Linked DNA regions of Homo sapiens. The protein of the gene in region 1 interacts with the protein of each later gene in a pairwise test. Each region holds a gene or a part of one and is shown in the gene's direction. Other genes may lie near its edges.

Region 1 (6,286 bases):
TGTCATCGTACTTGGGAAACCCAAGGATGGATTCTTGGCAAGTCGACTCTTGGAGCTTTCCCTGTGCTTGGTCCTGTGCTCAGACATGGGAAAATTAGAGGAGTGTCATCTGTGCAATCACTGAATTCATAATCTTGGTGAGGAAAGGAGACTACACACAGGGAATAATGCTAAGTATTACAGATTTCAGGGCAGAAAGAGATCAAGGTGGGCTGCAATATTCAGAAAAGTCTTCCTGGAAAAGTTGAATACTTAGAAAGCAGCTCCTAGAAGTAGACTCTGCTGAGATGGACGGAGTCCTTTGTAGGTCCCAACTGGGTGTGTGTGTGGGGTCTGTCTCTCCATGGCTGACAGTGCACATGTGGATTCCAGGGCTCAGGATGCTGTTGCTGGGAGCTGTTCTACTGCTATTAGCTCTGCCCGGTCATGACCAGGAAACCACGACTCAAGGGCCCGGAGTCCTGCTTCCCCTGCCCAAGGGGGCCTGCACAGGTTGGATGGCGGGCATCCCAGGGCATCCGGGCCATAATGGGGCCCCAGGCCGTGATGGCAGAGATGGCACCCCTGGTGAGAAGGGTGAGAAAGGAGATCCAGGTAAGAATGTTTCTGGCCTCTTTCATCACAGACCTCCTACACTGATATAAACTATATGAAGGCATTCATTATTAACTAAGGCCTAGACACAGGGAGAAAGCAAAGCTTTTTTATGTTAACCATAAGCAACCTGAAGTGATTTGGGGTTGGTCTTCCAAGGATGAGTGTAGATGGTGCCTCTATAACCAAGACTTTGGCTTTGCTGCATCTGCAGCTCCTTTTCCATCCCCTTTCCCATCTTCACCCTCATCCCTATTCCCAGTACATTCATATTCTGATTCCTCTTTCTGTCTGCTTAACTTCCATTTCACCCAGTGGCATTCAACCACATTTACTGCACACCCCCTGAAAGGCTCAGTCCTGCCTTTGGGGAACTCTTGATCTAGGTAAGATGTCTAATGTGCAAGGCTCTGTTGGTGGTTACTACAAGAAAGTCTACTCTAAAAATGTCAAACTGAATGTGAACAAGTATTCAAAGTATGGAGCATAGAGAAAATATACTCACCGTGGACCTGATGAAGAATGAAGGCTTCAAGGAGGAGGCAGAGCTTCAGCTAGGCCTTGAATGATGGGTAGGCAGAATAGAGGAGGAGAGACATCCTAGATGGAGGGGGTAGAATTGCAAAACCAGGGTTGATGGTGCCAGCACATAAAGGGCTGGCAGGGTGGAGGGTCTATGATAGAGACCTATAGGAGATAAAGATAGAGTTGAAATTATGGGAGCCTCCATGTCTGTGGGAGATATAGAAGGAGGAGGTAACACCTCTCTCCTTTTGGGAGCTCTTATTGGTTTCTTGATCTATAAGTCAAGAAGGTTGTGAGTGGGAGCCACAGGGATGGTAATTTAGGCTGTAACCAACCTAGGCAGGAGTTCTGTTCTTTGTAGTCACTGAGGTCTTCTCATTCCTTAGGTCTTATTGGTCCTAAGGGAGACATCGGTGAAACCGGAGTACCCGGGGCTGAAGGTCCCCGAGGCTTTCCGGGAATCCAAGGCAGGAAAGGAGAACCTGGAGAAGGTGCCTATGTATACCGCTCAGCATTCAGTGTGGGATTGGAGACTTACGTTACTATCCCCAACATGCCCATTCGCTTTACCAAGATCTTCTACAATCAGCAAAACCACTATGATGGCTCCACTGGTAAATTCCACTGCAACATTCCTGGGCTGTACTACTTTGCCTACCACATCACAGTCTATATGAAGGATGTGAAGGTCAGCCTCTTCAAGAAGGACAAGGCTATGCTCTTCACCTATGATCAGTACCAGGAAAATAATGTGGACCAGGCCTCCGGCTCTGTGCTCCTGCATCTGGAGGTGGGCGACCAAGTCTGGCTCCAGGTGTATGGGGAAGGAGAGCGTAATGGACTCTATGCTGATAATGACAATGACTCCACCTTCACAGGCTTTCTTCTCTACCATGACACCAACTGATCACCACTAACTCAGAGCCTCCTCCAGGCCAAACAGCCCCAAAGTCAATTAAAGGCTTTCAGTACGGTTAGGAAGTTGATTATTATTTAGTTGGAGGCCTTTAGATATTATTCATTCATTTACTCATTCATTTATTCATTCATTCATCGAGTAACTTTAAAAAAATCATATGCTATGTTCCCAGTCCTGGGGAGCTTCACAAACATGACCAGATAACTGACTAGAAAGAAGTAGTTGACAGTGCTATTTTGTGCCCACTGTCTCTCCTGATGCTCATATCAATCCTATAAGGCACAGGGAACAAGCATTCTCCTGTTTTTACAGATTGTATCCTGAGGCTGAGAGAGTTAAGTGAATGTCTAAGGTCACACAGTATTAAGTGACAGTGCTAGAAATCAAACCCAGAGCTGTGGACTTTGTTCACTAGACTGTGCCCTTTTATAGAGGTACATGTTCTCTTTGGAGTGTTGGTAGGTGTCTGTTTCCCACCTCACCTGAGAGCCATTGAATTTGCCTTCCTCATGAATTAAAACCTCCCCCAAGCAGAGCTTCCTCAGAGAAAGTGGTTCTATGATGACGTCCTGTCTTGGAAGGACTACTACTCAATGGCCCCTGCACTACTCTACTTCCTCTTACCTATGTCCCTTCTCATGCCTTTCCCTCCAACGGGGAAAGCCAACTCCATCTCTAAGTGCCGAACTCATCCCTGTTCCTCAAGGCCACCTGGCCAGGAGCTTCTCTGATGTGATATCCACTTTTTTTTTTTTTGAGATGGAGTCTCACTCTGTCACCCAGGCTGGAGTACAGTGACACGACCTCGGCTCACTGCAGCCTCCTTCTCCTGGGTCCAAGCAATTATTGTGCCTCAGCCTCCCGAGTAGCTGAGACTTCAGGTGCATTCCACCACACATGGCTAATTTTTGTATTTTTAGTAGAAATGGGGTTTCGTCATGTTGGCCAGGCTGGTCTCGAACTCCTGGCCTAGGTGATCCACCCGCCTCGACCTCCCAAAGTGCTGGGATTACAGGCATGAGCCACCATGCCCAGTCGATATCTCACTTTTTATTTTGCCATGGATGAGAGTCCTGGGTGTGAGGAACACCTCCCACCAGGCTAGAGGCAACTGCCCAGGAAGGACTGTGCTTCCGTCACCTCTAAATCCCTTGCAGATCCTTGATAAATGCCTCATGAAGACCAATCTCTTGAATCCCATATCTACCCAGAATTAACTCCATTCCAGTCTCTGCATGTAATCAGTTTTATCCACAGAAACATTTTCATTTTAGGAAATCCCTGGTTTTAAGTATCAATCCTTGTTCAGCTGGACAATATGAATCTTTTCCACTGAAGTTAGGGATGACTGTGATTTTCAGAACACGTCCAGAATTTTTCATCAAGAAGGTAGCTTGAGCCTGAAATGCAAAACCCATGGAGGAATTCTGAAGCCATTGTCTCCTTGAGTACCAACAGGGTCAGGGAAGACTGGGCCTCCTGAATTTATTATTGTTCTTTAAGAATTACAGGTTGAGGTAGTTGATGGTGGTAAACATTCTCTCAGGAGACAATAACTCCAGTGATGTTCTTCAAAGATTTTAGCAAAAACAGAGTAAATAGCATTCTCTATCAATATATAAATTTAAAAAACTATCTTTTTGCTTACAGTTTTAAATTCTGAACAATTCTCTCTTATATGTGTATTGCTAATCATTAAGGTATTATTTTTTCCACATATAAAGCTTTGTCTTTTTGTTGTTGTTGTTGTTTTTAAGATGGAGTTTCCCTCTGTTGCCAGGCTAGAGTGCAGTGGCATGATCTCGGCTTACTGCAACCTTTGCCTCCCAGGTTCAAGCGATTCTTCTGCCTCAGCCTCCCGAGTAGCTGGGACCACAGGTGCCTACCACCATGCCAGGCTAATTTTTGTATTTTTAGTAAAGACAGGGTTTCACCATATTGGCCAGGCTGGTCTCGAACTCCTGACCTTGTGATCTGCCCGCCTCCATTTTTGTTGTTATTTTTTGAGAAAGATAGATATGAGGTTTAGAGAGGGATGAAGAGGTGAGAGTAAGCCTTGTGTTAGTCAGAACTCTGTGTTGTGAATGTCATTCACAACAGAAAACCCAAAATATTATGCAAACTACTGTAAGCAAGAAAAATAAAGGAAAAATGGAAACATTTATTCCTTTGCATAATAGAAATTACCAGAGTTGTTCTGTCTTTAGATAAGGTTTGAACCAAAGCTCAAAACAATCAAGACCCTTTTCTGTATGTCCTTCTGTTCTGCCTTCCGCAGTGTAGGCTTTACCCTCAGGTGCTACACAGTATAGTTCTAGGGTTTCCCTCCCGATATCAAAAAGACTGTGGCCTGCCCAGCTCTCGTATCCCCAAGCCACACCATCTGGCTAAATGGACATCATGTTTTCTGGTGATGCCCAAAGAGGAGAGAGGAAGCTCTCTTTCCCAGATGCCCCAGCAAGTGTAACCTTGCATCTCATTGCTCTGGCTGAGTTGTGTGCCTGTTTCTGACCAATCACTGAGTCAGGAGGATGAAATATTCATATTGACTTAATTGCAGCTTAAGTTAGGGGTATGTAGAGGTATTTTCCCTAAAGCAAAATTGGGACACTGTTATCAGAAATAGGAGAGTGGATGATAGATGCAAAATAATACCTGTCCACAACAAACTCTTAATGCTGTGTTTGAGCTTTCATGAGTTTCCCAGAGAGACATAGCTGGAAAATTCCTATTGATTTTCTCTAAAATTTCAACAAGTAGCTAAAGTCTGGCTATGCTCACAGTCTCACATCTGGTTGGGGTGGGCTCCTTACAGAACACGCTTTCACAGTTACCCTAAACTCTCTGGGGCAGGGTTATTCCTTTGTGGAACCAGAGGCACAGAGAGAGTCAACTGAGGCCAAAAGAGGCCTGAGAGAAACTGAGGTCAAGATTTCAGGATTAATGGTCCTGTGATGCTTTGAAGTACAATTGTGGATTTGTCCAATTCTCTTTAGTTCTGTCAGCTTTTGCTTCATATATTTTAGCGCTCTATTATTAGATATATACATGTTTAGTATTATGTCTTATTGGTGCATTTACTCTCTTATCATTATGTAATGTCCTTCTTTATCTGTGATAATTTTCTGTGTTCTGAAGTCTACTTTGTCTAAAAATAACATACGCACTCAACTTCCTTTTCTTTCTTCCTTCCTTTCTTTCTTCCTTCCTTTCTTTCTCTCTCTCTCTCTTTCCTTCCTTCCTTCCTCCTTTTCTTTCTCTCTCTCTCTCTCTCTCTTTTTTTGACAGACTCTCGTTCTGTGGCCCTGGCTGGAGTTCAGTGGTGTGATCTTGGCTCACTGCTACCTCTACCATGAGCAATTCTCCTGCCTCAGCCTCCCAAGTAGCTGGAACTACAGGCTCATGCCACTGCGCCCAGCTAATTTTTGTATTTTTCGTAGAGACGGGGTTTCACCACATTCGTCAGGTTGGTTTCAAACTCCTGACTTTGTGATCCACCCGCCTCGGCCTCCCAAAGTGCTGGGATTACAGGCATGAGCCATCACACCTGGTCAACTTTCTTTTGATTAGTGTTTTTGTGGTATATCTTTTTCCATCATGTTACTTTAAATATATCTATATTATTGTATTTAAAATGTGTTTCTTACAGACTGCATGTAGTTGGGTATAATTTTTATCCAGTCTAAAAATATCTGTCTTTTAATTGGTGTTTAGACAATTTATATTTAATAAAATTGTTGAATTTAAGATGGATGACTGTTTTATTTGTTTGCTGTTCACCACTTCTGTTTTATTCTCTTTCCAGAATTCTTTTGGATTGTTTAAATATTTCATAATATTTTATCTTAATTTATTTATTGGGTATTTGCCTATATCTCTTTGTGGTATTTTTTAGTGGTTGCTTGAGGGATTACAATGTACTTAACTTTTCACAGTGTGCATAAAGTTAATATTTTGCCACTTGCAGTAAACCGTAGAAGGCTTATAATCATATTAGTACCTCTATCCACTTTCTTTTATGTTGTAGTTGTCATATATATTACATCTATATACACTGAAACATTATAGGCAATGTTATGATTTTTGCATTCGTCAGTCATATATATATTTTAAAGAATTTAAGAGGAGAAAAATACATATTCAGATATTCATCATTTCCTTTGTTCTTTATTAATTTCTAATGTTCTGTGTTTCTCTCTGGTGTAATTTCTCCTCAACCTGAAAAACTTTATTGAGCATTTATTTTAA
Region 2 (7,032 bases), on another chromosome or scaffold:
TTGCAATAATGTGGAACTTATAAAAATATGGATTTTTTCCTCCATAATGGAAAAAAAATTGTGCCTCAGAGTCAAATGTATAAAATCAAAAATCGTATTAGTATAAACTTTGTATTTTTTTAATAATGAAAAATATTTTTGGACTTTCAGTGAAATTTTATTTCACTTTTTTACATTGTGATGAATTGATAACTCTAAAATCCCTTTTCTGGGAAGGAATTCTCTTTTCTCATTCATTTCAGTAAGTTTTTAAAAGTTCATGAAGGAGTTATATTAATAATGCTTTTCTCCTAGATCTGTAGCATTAGTTGTTACCTTGGAGCTTGGAGGGTTAGATTCTCATCAGTCTTATTGACGCTTTCAGTATTGAAAGGATTTTTTAAAGTTGTATTCACTTAGGATCTCAGTGTTGAGCAAGATTTTATCAGAATTTTAAGTGCCAAATCAGTTTTTATTTCCTTTGTGAGAAGTATCTGGCATGACTTTTCAGATATAAGAAATAGGAATGTGAAATTTGGATAATGTTCTACTTGCATGATTATAAAATAATACTGCTTATAAAATTTTAAGTGCTTCTATGTTCCTTGCTCTGTAGATCATTTTTTCTTTTCTATTTTATTACTCTTGGCTATTATGCTAATGCAATACCTTATCTTTGGTCATATGCCATCACATTAGGTGTAGTTAATTTAAACTAGAACTATTTGGCAGAAAAAGAAAAAAGCTTTCTGCTTGCTTTATCACTATGAAGTAATGCAGATTCACAATTCCTTGACATAAGAACTGTGTTCAGTTTACATTTTAAAGGACGCTGTCAAAAGGTTTGTGTACCATATATTTTTTTCTTACAAGAATGTAGATGATCTAAACCAAACTCAACGTGAAAACCAAGTTAAATCCTAGGTACATGTTAGAAAAGTTTATTTACACAGGTGAGTGTTACGCATTTGGAGAACTGATACACTGAAAATTTACCAAAGCACCAGGTGTGTCATTTGCTCAGGTGCAGCAGAAATTAAAATACTATTATGATTTGGTCCTTAACTGGTTAGAAAATGCCGGTCTCTCCCTGTATCTGTTAGAGCTATGTATCTCATTTTACAATGTAAAATATTCGCATCTTCAAAAAGAAACTTAGTTCCTGTGTAAGAACCTTATTTAAATATTGATAGATGAGTCATGCTTAGCTCTCATTTTTACGAGGGGCTTGATTATTTTTATGCAGTTTTTCCTTAACAGATTGTACCAGCTTTGAGTGCATAGAATAAGAAACCAATGTATGAATAATTTATATTTTTGGCAAGTATCCCTATAAATATACAGCTTGGAAGACCTAGAAATCCAGAGTTGCAGTGGATACAGCGTTTGTTATTTATAATTTTTCTCTTTAAAAAAGTGTATAATTCCTGATCCCCAATTAAACTTTATTTTCTGTAGCAGATTACATTTTTATAGCAAAGAAACACATATTCTGTTACGTCAGAGTGTATTTACTCAAAAAATGTCAGTACGCAAGTTAATGGCGGAGCTTGGTGGTAGCCTTGGATTTCTTTCCCTTTTGCCACTCTACAAAACATACTGTTGAGAAGATTTTATGTATTAAATCATACTTATCGTAGAAAATGGTACTTGAATGAAGTTTCTAACTTTGCCACATACCTGTCTAATTTACTTTTACAATATATGTGTCAATTGCCAGTGTGAGAAGACAAAATGAAATACGTTGTGAAAGGTAACTGTATTATTTTCTGGCTCTGCGTTATAAAAGGGAAATCTCTGTGGTGGAATAGGTTGAATATGACAGACCCATTTGAACATACTGTGTGCATTTTAAAAAGCTTTAGGAAGCACACAGTGATGGCTTCATCTAGTTAACCATTTTCATGTTAGTGCAATTTAAGATTGTAGTTAAATAACAGGTTTCCTAATGCCACAGAGTAAATATGTTAGTAGGATGAGATGAGTTAAAGACCTGTCTTAAGCATATGTGATTTCTCCATGTTTTTTAGCCAGTAAAATAAAAGTCAAACATGTTCCCCCAAAAAGTCTCTGAATCCCTTATCATCTAGGCTCCAGAAATTTCTTTAAGCACTGGTAGTACCTTTAAGACATGTAGAAGTTAAACATTAGAATTTTCTTACATGAATTGAATTATCAGAAAATAATTTGTATTGTAGTCAAAATTCCACAGCTGTGCCAACTTACAGAAAAAATTAGTGCATTTGGTATTAAACATTTACCATTATATAATTATTGTCTTGATACTTAAATTCAGGCAAAACCAGATCAGTTACTTAGAGAATGAGATATCCAAAATAGGATTTAATAATTCTTCAAATCTTTATATGGATCCAACACTCCAGTCTCCTTTCTCTGCTTAGTAAATATTGCTGATTGTTTTAGGGGGAATTGACCAGTGAACACTTAGAAGCTTTTGTTTTCTGATTTTAAAAGATAAAACGTATTGGAAAGGTTACTGCTTATCAAAGTAGAAAGCTAACTGTCCTCTAGCGCCAAAGTATATACTGAGAATGAGTGGAAATCCCCACCAAGTTTCCCATTGCACCTTAGTCTTCATTTCCAGCAGCCCTGTATGTCACTCCTGGCTGTCTCAAGATCAGACTCAAATTGTGGATTGCCCTTCCTGTAATGTGCTCTAGCACGTCTCCTGATCTCAGCTTCAGAGTGGAGGCTTGCATTTTCACTCTGGAGAGCTGAGAGTTTGAATGAGACACAGCTGCAACGAGACATCAGGCACTACTCAAAATTAATGAGGTGGGAGGGAAGGAAGTGTGGGAAATGGAGTTTCTTGAAATTTATGAATACGGTTTTTGAGATAGAGCTGTTGATATCAGATGAGCAACTGTGGTCATACCGGTGCAGCTAACCAGGTCCTGATATGCTTTTAAAGGTGCTAGTGATTTTTTTTTTCCAACTGGAAGAAAGGAATTACACTTTTTAAGCAGAGTTGTCCTCTGTCTTAAATTTCATAAAGTAAAGCACCAAGAAAATTATTTTATATGTTGGTGCTGTTTTGTCGTGTAAATATAGATTCCCTTTGTTTCTTTGATCAATAGTAATGTTGAGTTTATGAAAATGATAAAATGGAGGACACATGAGACAAGGATTTTTTAAAGTAGTTGAGAGATATTATATTGTATTGAAATATACAATATAATCCTATTTGACATTTATTTGTCTTGTTTTTGCTTTTATTTTATTACTTCTCTGTTTCCTGATTCTGTCTTGTGCCTTCTCCCGCAAAAACCTGCCTTAGACCTGTGTTGCGTGGTGGGTCTGCTGCCGCCACTTCTAATCCTCATCATGACAACGTCAGGTAAATTTTGAGACTTCGTAATTACCAGGGTAAATGCTTGGCGGAATTTGTGTGTTGCAGGGCATGTTGCATGTCGTAGCCATGCCTGTGTTTGTAGCTGAACTTGTTTCTACAGCTTTCCTCGATGAGTACATCTTGCTTCTCTCTAAGAACAGTGAATAATCAGTCATGACATTTGGCCAATTAGTATGAGGGAAAATGTTTAATAATTATGGTATGATGTGAACAGCTATTTTATTTAAGTGTAGTGTTAATAGTTTATAGGTGGTTTATAATAATTTACATGCTAAAACAGAAAAAAGTCTTAAATCTTATTTTATGTACATCATTTTAATGGTTGCCTGAATTGTGCCCAGCATTTCCTTTTAAGTTGTTAATTATCTGGAATGTTACTTTTAGTGTGTGAACAAACCTGTCTTTGTTTGTAAGGCTTCATCTTAAATTGGGAGAAATCAGCATTAACAACTCCACAGTTTGGGAAGGTACATATTTAGAAAGGAAATTTAGTTTTAAGCATTTTTATCATCTGTTGATTTAAGGCCTTCTCTCTTATTTTTGCCCTTTTTACACTTTCAGACACGCGTAGGTTGAGCGTTCCTTTCTTCCTGACACGCACAGAGGCTGGCAGAATGGCACATACAAATACATGCAGTTCTTAAGTGCCAAAATCCCCATTTAGTTTTCCTATAGTCTGGAAAAAATCAAAAACTTGTTGGTATTCACAGATGCTATTACTGTATAATTTTTTCAGTCAGTTTTATTTAAGCAGAAATATATTGTCGGTAGCAGTAGATTTAAAACTGGCAGCATCGTTTCTGTGCTTAGAAGTTGGTGCATTCATTGAAGCAAGAGAAAAGGGAAGCATTAGCTGCTCATTAAAATTGAATTCATGGTGGAGGAATTGAAAAGCGTGCCTGTGGTAATCCCTTACCACTCTGCTGACTTGTTTCTTTTTACAATCTTAGTTCAGTTCATTGTCGTTTTCCCTTATATTTTTCTCTAAGTTTGTGATCTTTTATCTTTCTGTCAGAGTATTTTCAGCCAGTGGTCTAACTTAGCATTAGAGTTTTTTAGTTCTAATAAATACGGTTTTTGTTTAAAACACAATGTAAAGTAACATATTTTTGTTTTAAATTGAAGTATATAGGTAAAATCTTTTGTCATATCCTTATATTTCTTTGCAAATCGAGATTTCAGATATCTAAACCTTAGTTAATTCAGGATATAAATTGTGAGTAATCGCTTTCATTTGTACTTCATTCTGTATGTTCAGTTCAGATCCCTTTAACAATTGCTTCTGTTTGATTTTTTTCCTAATTATTCCTCTGTTATGTGGCCTCAGAGAAAGAGAAGAGTTTTATTTTGAGGATGAAGTGAAGGAAAAGGGAATCTTCTACCTTTATTTTTTCCACTAATCATTTGTAAACCCATAGTTCCAGCATCTACTAACTTAGAAGTTTACTTCTCTAACTGGTATAATTACCCTAACTGCTCCAGGTTGTTTACTGTGTTCTCATGAAATAAGGAGACAGTTAATGAGAAAGCAGGATAATTTAGCCATAGAAGGAATATTTGGAGATGGTTGTAGATTATCTAGAGTCAGTACACACCATCTATTGTTTAAGGTTTTTTGCATACTTTATTAAAGTATTTTTATTACTTTTAACAATATTTAAAACAAAAGGATTTTCTGAGTAGACTTGTCTTTAACATGTCTGGATGAAAAGTATAATTCTGCTTCATATCCCTTTTTGTGGGTATGTACTTTTTGTAGTGGGGACTTGCTGGGATAGGTATTAGAATAGATGATCCATTTGCCAATTCTCTGGACTACACAGGAATAACTTTTAATTTAGTTTATTTATATTCTGCTCATTTAGAAAATTTACTATGCCATTTTACTAAAATAACCATTTAGGGTATAAAATACATGTGAGGTGAATTATGTGGTTATATAAGTTGTATCTCAATGAAGCTATTAATTAAACTAAATTTTAAAATGTGGAAATCCAGGCAAAGAAGAGGAATGGCGTTTGTCTTTGTTTTTCAGAGGTTTAGTGTCATTCACCTAGAAATTAGTGCCGCTTTAGAAGTAACTACATTGGAACAAAAAGTACTTTTTTAATATGCTTTCTCTGGATTTTGTCTTAATGGTTTTTCAGTATTATTTTATACACAGCATTTTATTCATTATTGGGCCAATTCTGGAGCTAAATGTAGTGGTAAGATGTATTCAGGAGATTTTATAATTGTTTCTGCGGGAGAACACAGTAGAGCATAAGTAATTGGAAATAAGTAAAGAATAGGCCAGGCGTGGTTGCTCAGGCCTGTAATCCCAGCAATTTAGGAGGCTGAGGTGGGTGGATCACCTGAGGTCAGGACTTTGAGACCAGCCTGGCCAAAATGGTGAAACCCCATCTCTACTAAAAGTACAAAAATTAGCCGGGCATGGTGGCAGGTGCCTGTAATTCCAGCTACTTGGGAGGCTGAGGTAGGAGAATCACTTGAACCCCAGAGGTGGAGGTTGCAATGAGCCGAGATTGTGCCATTGCACTCCAGCCTGGGCAACAAAAGTGAAACTCTGTCTCAAAAAAATAAAAAGACAAGAAGTAAAGAATAAAAATGGCAAGACAAGAGGCAGTGAGAAGAGGTGATGAGTCTTTCTTTTTTTAGAGTTAGTCTACTTTGTGTTCCCTGCTAGTGAGTCTGTGCCTATGGGCTTACATATGGACATAAGTTTGTGTAAGAATTATATTTTGTTCTATCCTAAGTGGCAGCTCTCAAACCTTTTCAGCCAGGGACCCTTTTTAGCATCGCCAATCCTTCTGGCTTGAGAATTTTCTATGTGTTTCTTTAGTCAGGATTTTTTTCCCATTCTCCAGTTTTTAGTGCCCTTTTTCAATATTGTAGACAGTTGTCATTTTAAGCTTTTTTCTTTCCTTTATTAGTACAAATTCAGGTAGTAAAATATTTTAGTAATTCATATTATTAAGTACCAATTTTCTGAATACTACTTTGAGCATTACACAAAGCATGATGTGGCGTGCCATTTACTCTGAGTTCTACTTTACTATTCATTTGTATTTCTATCTCTTATCTGCAGGTATGGCATTTCAAATATAGATACAACCATTGAAGGAACGTCAGATGACCTGACTGTTGTAGATGCAGCTTCACTAAGACGACAGGTATTTAGTGTACCAAATAAGATATATTTCTCAGTTATATTCATACAATATTTTAAAGTGATAGTTCTCAACATTTTATTATTTTCTCTCCTGTGGGACTATCAAACTAGTAAGCCATCATTGATTTTCTCATTTTGATTAAAGATATATTAAACTACCATTTACATGTTTTGATCACCGTAAAACAGTATTACCAAGATAGATTAATGTAATTCTGGCCAGTAACAAAGAATCTTTAGCAAACCAGTACAGCCATCAGTTGCTTGTTTGGCTTTTGAAATGTGGAACAATTACTTTGGAACCTTTGTTACTGTGTTTAATAACTCCATTTTGGAAACCGCTCCTTGCAGCTTGCACAGCATCCCTGCATACGTATTTCCTGTATTCTGTAATAAATCCTTTCTTAGAACTGCAGTTGCACATGCATATTTTTTAATATGTACTCCCACAGCCTCGAGTATCACACAGACATACACACATGTGAAGAAGGCATAGTTGGTTTTCTCA
Region 3 (7,032 bases), about 74 Mb from region 1:
TAGTTTATAAATGTTGATTATCTTTTTAAAGAACTAGCTTTTGATTTCCTTAATTTTTTGCATTGCTTGTTTCCTCTTTTATTGATTTCTGCTCTTATATTTATTATTGTGTTTTCTCTCTTTTGTTTCTTGCTTCTATGGGTGAATTTTACACATTTCTTCCTTTAAAATTAGCACTTAAAGGTATTACTTTTCCTAAAACCACTGTGTTAGCTGCTTATTTCAAATTTTGGCATGTTGTATTTTCATTATCATCCAGTGAAAACTTTAATTTCTTCATGAATTTCTTCTTTGAGCAAAGGGTTGCTTAGACGTGTGTTTGATTTCTAAATATTTGGTATTTTCTTAAAAATCTCATTGTAATTGATTTCTAATTCAATTCTGTTTTGGTTGGAGGACATCTTTTATATGACTTCAGTTTTTTTTAATGTTTTTGAGACTTGTGGCACAGAATGTGGCCAAACTCAGCGAATATACGATGTGCACTTGCAAAGAATGTATTCTGCAGATGCTGGGTTAGGGTACTAAAAATATGAATTAGGTCAGTGTGGTTGATAACTATATTAGTTGTTTATAACTATGTAATGAATTACCCCACAACTTAGCAGCAGATAAGAAATATGTATTTTGAAAGATAAAAATACATCTTAAGTTGATATTGATACTTTTCATTAAAATTTAGGACTGAGGATTTTTTTTTCCTTTTTTTTTTTTTCTTTGACGGAGTGTCACTCTGTCACCCAGGCTGGAGTGCAGTGGTGTGATCTCAGCTCACTGCAACCTCTGCCTCCCGGGTTCAAGCAATTCTCTGCATCAGCCTCCCAAGTAGCTGGGATTACAGGCATCTGCCACCACATCCGGCTAATTTTTGTATTAAACTTACTTATTTTACATCTATTATCTTCTTTCTTCCTCACTATAAAATTGAACAATACCAACATACAGACATACCTATCTCTCCACAACCTCACCCAACAGTGTATGTTGTCAAACTTTTGGATTTTGCCAGTTATAGATGAGAAATGGTATTTCCAAATACTTTTAATTTGGATTCCTCTTACCATGACTGATGTGAAATATATTTTCATATGACTAAGAGATATTTTTACTTCTTTTTCCATAAAATTTCTGTCCATATGTTTAGTCTGGTTTGCTATAGGTTTGGGTTGATCTTTATTTTTAATCCAGCTTCATCTAGCCACGTGCCAGGGAGCTGTGCAGGCCACTGTTCTAAGCCCATGAATTCTGACAATTGTCTCTTCCCGAACTTAACTATTCCCGTTCAGATCTAGAATTCATAGTGTCTGTGTCCAGATGCCTTTGTAATCCTGATTTTATGGACTTGCCATGCGATCTGCTTTTTTAAAAGTTTGTCTCTCAGTGCTCTTGCAATAACATGGCTTAAACTCACTTCAGTTTGGGTTAATTTGGGTTGTGTATCTATCCTAGCATATTTCTTAGGCTCTAACCATTGATTTCTACTCATAGCAGTAAGACTTACTTGCACTAAGATTCATAATTGGGTAACTGAAGCAGCTTACTAGCCAGGTAGTCTTGGTCAAATTGCTTAATCACTTAATCTACATTTCTTTATCTGTAAAATGAAAATAATCATATCTGCTAGTTATAGAGAGATGGAAATAAAGAACATAGGCAAATTACCCAAAATCTATTCCTGTTATACTCATTCCATAAATTATCTTAAAAGAACAGTTTGCTAAAGAAAATGGCAGCTGAAAGGGGCAGTAGATTAAAACTTTTTCCAGAAAAACACTGAGCATTAAATTTTACTCTAAAAGGTGTCTCTTTGCCAGTCAGATACACTCACTATAGATAAGCTACGAGTGTATCTTTTCCTTGTGAACACATTCCAGGAGCTTTGTGCCTTGCACAGTTAGAGCCTGCCGATATCCAGCCTCAACTCCAATTACACATCCAGGTTTTCTCACTTCATGGCAATACTAAACTATTTATAACTCTTGTAAATTTTTATTTGGCTTTGTACCTCCTTTAAATGCCATTATTTTTGTTTGCATTTTCCCTTCTGTCTTCCTGGAAAACTCCTCATGTACTTAGATCCAGCTAAAAAATTACTTATTATAGGAAAGCATGCCTAATCTCTTACTCCTGTTTTCCTGGAATTTAAACATCTCTTCTTTTAAACTTCTATACATCACAGGCAACTTCGATCATTGCACTGAAAACTTTGCATTATAATTGTTTCCCTAGCTACTGCCTCTCCTGGATCTTAAGCTCTTGGAAAAAAGGGGATATTGTTTATTATGATATCTCTGTGCCTAGCAGAGTACTTTGCCAATAATTGCTGCTTAAAAGATGTGTACTACCAATTCTCACTAAGAGCTTGCCTTGCAGAAATGTGAACTTAATAGGCCATTGTCTATATCACGGGTCCCCAACCCTGGGGCTGCAGACTGGTACCAGTCCTTGGCCTATTAGGGATTGGGCCGCACAGCAGGGGGTGAGCGGCAGGTGAGTGAGAATTGCGGCCTGAGCTCCACCTCTTGTCAGATCAGTTGGAGGCATTAGATGCTCACAGGAGCATGAACCCTATTGTGAACTGTGCATGCCAGGAATCTAGGCTGTGCATTCCTTATGAGAATTGAACTAATGCCTGATGATCTGAGGTGTAACAGTTTCATCCGAGAACTATCGTGCTCCCTTCCTCCTTGTCCGTGGTGGAAAAATTATCTTCCTCGAAATGGGTCCCTGGTGCCAAAAAGGTTGGGGACCGTTTTCCCATCATAGATTCTATGATGTGACTTCAACAATGCTTAGGAAAATCCTTTTATTCCATACCAGCAGCCAATCAATAGTCCCCACTAAACTTTTTTTACCTCCTCATTGGTGCTTGAAAAGCCTAGTAAAATAATTTCTTCCACACTCAGAGATAGACTAAAAGCCTGGAAGAAGACTTGAATATAAAGCAAGAGGGGGGTGATGGGCACTCTGGGCTTAAAGCAGGACTATGCCAGAGTCAGGAAGAGAAAGTCAAAAGTTTATACTGGGACAAATTTTGCCAAGACTTTTGCTTGGCTGTCATAATTTAGATATTCATTGGCAACTGCAATACAAAAATAGTCTGAAGAATGTGAAAAAATATGATTTTAACTAGGAGTCAGATCTATTAATGCATATTTCTCTCTCTACCCCCTATGTCTTTTTCAAAATTCAGAAGCGGAGGGTGCTGCTCAACCAAACAACTCATTAATGCTGCAAACTAGCAAGGAGAATCATGCTTTAGGTAATGTGCATCTTTTAACAATAATTCTAGTAGGGGAGTGCTTGATGTCCATATAGGTTTTACATTTTTGGATCTTGAATTGTCTCATGCATTATCTGTATTATCTAAATGATATTATATTTAAGAGTGTTAATAAATTTTTCATTCTGAAATTATTTCTATGCTTATTTAGTACCTATTTTAAGAATGGGATCACTAAACAAAACCAATGGCCTATTCAAAAAATTTGTTATTCAACTTTTGAAACCTAGATTATTATCCCAGAGCACTTTTTAATAAGCAGATCTTAATAGGTGTTAATGATTTATTTTCTATATCCTCTCTCAACCCTATTTTCTCCAAAATTTTTGTTTGCCATTTTAATTAACATTGAAACAGAAAAGAAAAGTTAACAGACTTTATTTTTTTAGAGAAGTTTTAGGATCGTAGCACAATTGAGTGGAAAGTACAGAAATTTCCCCTATGACCTCTGCCCCCACATGTGCAAAGCCTCCCCATTATCAACATACCTGACTAGAGTGGTACATTTGTTTCAATTAATGAACCTACATTGAAACATCATCATTATCACATTATCAAAGTCCAAAGTTTGCATTAGAGGTCACTTTTAGGGTTGAATATGAATGTTTTCAGGCAAATGCATAATGACATGTCTCCACCATGATAATATTTTATAGAGTAATTTCACTGACCTAAAAATCGTCTCTATTCTACCTATTCATCCTTCCCTGCCCACTAACCCCAGGCAATCCTGGTATACTGTCTCCATAGTTTTGTCTTTTCCAGAGTGTCATATAATTGGAACGTTACAGTATGCAGCATTTTCAGACTGGCTTTTTTCACTTAATAATATGCATTTAAGTGTTCCCCCATGACTTTCCATGTCTTAATGGCTCTTTTTTTTTAGTACTGAATAATATTCCATTGTTTGACTATACCACAGTTTATTCATTTGCCTGGTAAAAGACATCTTGGCTGCTTCCAAGTTTTGGCAATTAGGAAAAAAGCTGCAATTAACACCCATGCACGGGTTTTTGTATGGATGTAAGTTTTCAACTCTTAGGGTAAATACCAAAAAGCATGATTGTTGGATTGCATGGTAGGAGATTGCTTAGTTTTGTAAGAAACTGCCAAACTGTCTTTCAAAGTAGATGTACCACTTTGCATTCCTGCTACCAATTAAGTTCCTGTTGCTCCACTCCTCGCCTTTGGTGTGTAGTGGTTCTCATTGTTGTTTTAATTTGCCTTTCTTTGATGACATATGATGTAGAGCATCTTTTCATATGCTTATTTTCCATAAATATGTACATTTTCCATATATATCTTCTTTGGTAAAGTGCCTGTTAAGATTTTTGACCTGTTTTTTAATCTGGTTGTTTGCTTGCATATTGCTGAGTTTTAAGGTTCCTTTGTGTGTTTTGGATAACAGTCTTTTATCGGATATGTCTTTTGAAAATACAGTTGGCCCTCTGTATCCATGGGTTTCAAATCTGTGGATCCAACCAACCATGGATTGGAAATATTTGGAAAAAATTCCACAAAGTTCCAAAAAGCAAAACTTGAATTTGCCTTACTACATTGAGTCCACAGGATGTAGTGATATACAGGCATTGTATTAGGTATTATAAGTAATCTAGAGACGATTTAAAAAATACAGGTGGTTATATGCAAATACTAAGCCATTTTATACAAGGGATATGAGCATCTGTGGATTTTGGTATCCATGGGGTGATGGAATCCCTCAGAGGCAACAAGGGATGACTGTATTTTTTTTTTAGTATGTGGCTTATCTTTTCGTTCTCCTTTTTTTTTTTTTTTTTTTTGAGACGGAGTCTCGCTTTGTCGCCCAGGCTGGAGTGCAGTGGCGCGATCTTGGCTCACTGCAAGCTCCGCCTCCCGGGTTCACGCCATTCTTCTGCCTCAGCCTCCGGAGTAGAGTAGCTGGGACTACAGGCGCCAGCTACCACGCCCTGCTAATTTTTGTATTTTTAGTAGAGACGGGGTTTCACCGTGTTAGCCAAGATGGTCTCGATTTCCTGACCTCGTGATCCGCCCGCCTCGGCCTTCCAAAGTGCTGTGATTACAGGCGTGAGCCACTGCTCTTAGAAATTTTTCACAGAGTAGAAATTTTTAATTTTACTGAAGTCCAGTTTATAGATTCTTTATTTTATGGATTGTGCCTTTACTGTGGTAGCTAAAATGTCACTGCCAAACCAAAGATCATTTGGACTTTCTCTTATGTTACCTTCTAGGAGTGTTTTTAGTTTTGCATTTTTATATTTAGGACACTGATCCATTTTGAGTTTATTTTTGTGAAAGGTGTGAGGTCTGTATCTAGATTTAATTTATTTTTGCATCTGGATGTCCAGTCGTTCCAACACCATTTGTTCAAAAGACTCCAATGTATTGCCTTTGCTAATTTCCAAATACAATATTTATGTGAGCCTATTTCTGGGCTCTCTATTTGGTTTCATTTACTTATTTAGCTCTTCTTTTGCTAATAAAATACTGACTTGATTATTGTAGCTTTATAGTAAATCTTGAAGTCGAATAGTGTCAGGCCTCAAACTTTGTTCTTCTTCAATAATGTGTTGACTATTCTGAGTCTTTTGCCTCTCTAGATAAACTTAAAAATCAGTTTGTTTATGTCCATAAAATAACTTGCTGAGATTTTGGTTGGGATTGTGTTGAATACATAGATCAAGTTGGGAAAAACTGGGACTTTGGTAATATTCATTCACCCTATCTGTGAACATGAGGTCTCACTCCATTTACTTAGATTTTCTTTGATTCTTTTCCATCAGAGTTTTATAGTTTTCCTCATATAGATGTTGCACATATTTTGTTAGACTTATACCTAAGTATTTCATTTTTGGGGATGCTAATATAAATGGTATTGTGTTTTTAACTTCAAATTCCACTTGTTCACTGGTGACTTATTGGAAATTGTCATACAAACATTGACTTTTGTATGTTAACCTTGAATTAATATCTTCCATCACATCAATGAGTCAATACAATACAAAAAATTGACTTTTGTATGTTAACCTTGTATTTTGCAACCTTGCTGCAATTTCTTATTAGTTCTAGGAGTTTTTTTGGTCAATTCTTTCAGATGCTTTACATAGATAATTATGTCATGTATGAACAAAGACAGTTTTATTTCTTCGTTACTGATCTTGATCCCTTTTATTTATTTTTTCTTGTCTTATTGCATTAGTTAGAAATTCCAGTGGTGAATTAGTTAGAAAAGCATTAGTTAGAAAAGCAGTGGTGAAAAGAGTCATCTTGCTTTGCTCCTGATGCTTTGCTTTCTCACCATTAATTATGATGCTAGCTGTAGAGTTTTTTGTAGATGTTTTTTAAGTTGAGAAATTTCTCTTTATCCCAGTTTACTGAGAGTTTTTAAAAAATCATAAATGAATGTTAAATTTTGTCAAATGCTTTTTATGTATCTATGGAAATGATCATATTATTTAGCTTATTGATGTGATGGAAGATATTAATTCATTTTTGAATTTTGAGCCAGGCTTGCATATCTGGAATAAACCCCAGTTGTTCATGGAATATAATTCTTTTACTACATTCTTGAATTTGATTTACTAATATTTTACTGAGGATTTAAAAATGTATGTTTATGAGAGATATTGGTCTGTGGTTTTCTTTTTTGTAATGTTTTTGTCTGGTTTGGTTATTAGGATAATGCTAACCTGATAGAATGAGTTAGGAAGCATTCCCTCTGCTTCTGTTTCTGAAAGAGATTAAGGAGA

Evidence for each region. Proteins that work in one complex are often made in the same cells at the same time.
Region 2: the proteins of ADIPOQ (region 1) and MFF interact in binary tests that used the Homo sapiens proteins (3 or more experiments, as listed by UniProt).
Region 3: the proteins of ADIPOQ (region 1) and CD200R1 interact in binary tests that used the Homo sapiens proteins (3 or more experiments, as listed by UniProt).

The regions. Positions count from the first base shown.
Region 1 is NC_000003.12:186,852,679-186,858,964, forward strand, and holds the end of ADIPOQ (adiponectin precursor), read left to right. Parts: exon of another isoform or gene 1-372; 5' UTR 373-380; coding exon 381-594; intron 595-1,099; exon of another isoform or gene 1,100-1,194; intron 1,195-1,454; exon of another isoform or gene 1,455-1,505; coding exon 1,506-2,026; 3' UTR 2,027-5,785; downstream 5,786-6,286. UniProt on the Homo sapiens protein: Important adipokine involved in the control of fat metabolism and insulin sensitivity, with direct anti-diabetic, anti-atherogenic and anti-inflammatory activities.
Region 2 is NC_000002.12:227,349,237-227,356,268, forward strand, and holds part of MFF (mitochondrial fission factor), read left to right. Parts: intron 1-3,277; coding exon 3,278-3,337; intron 3,338-6,440; coding exon 6,441-6,525; intron 6,526-7,032. UniProt on the Homo sapiens protein: Plays a role in mitochondrial and peroxisomal fission. Promotes the recruitment and association of the fission mediator dynamin-related protein 1 (DNM1L) to the mitochondrial surface.
Region 3 is NC_000003.12:112,944,086-112,951,117, reverse strand, and holds part of CD200R1 (cell surface glycoprotein CD200 receptor 1 isoform a precursor), read left to right. Parts: intron 1-3,193; coding exon 3,194-3,262; intron 3,263-7,032. UniProt on the Homo sapiens protein: Inhibitory receptor for the CD200/OX2 cell surface glycoprotein. Limits inflammation by inhibiting the expression of pro-inflammatory molecules including TNF-alpha, interferons, and inducible nitric oxide synthase (iNOS) in response to selected stimuli.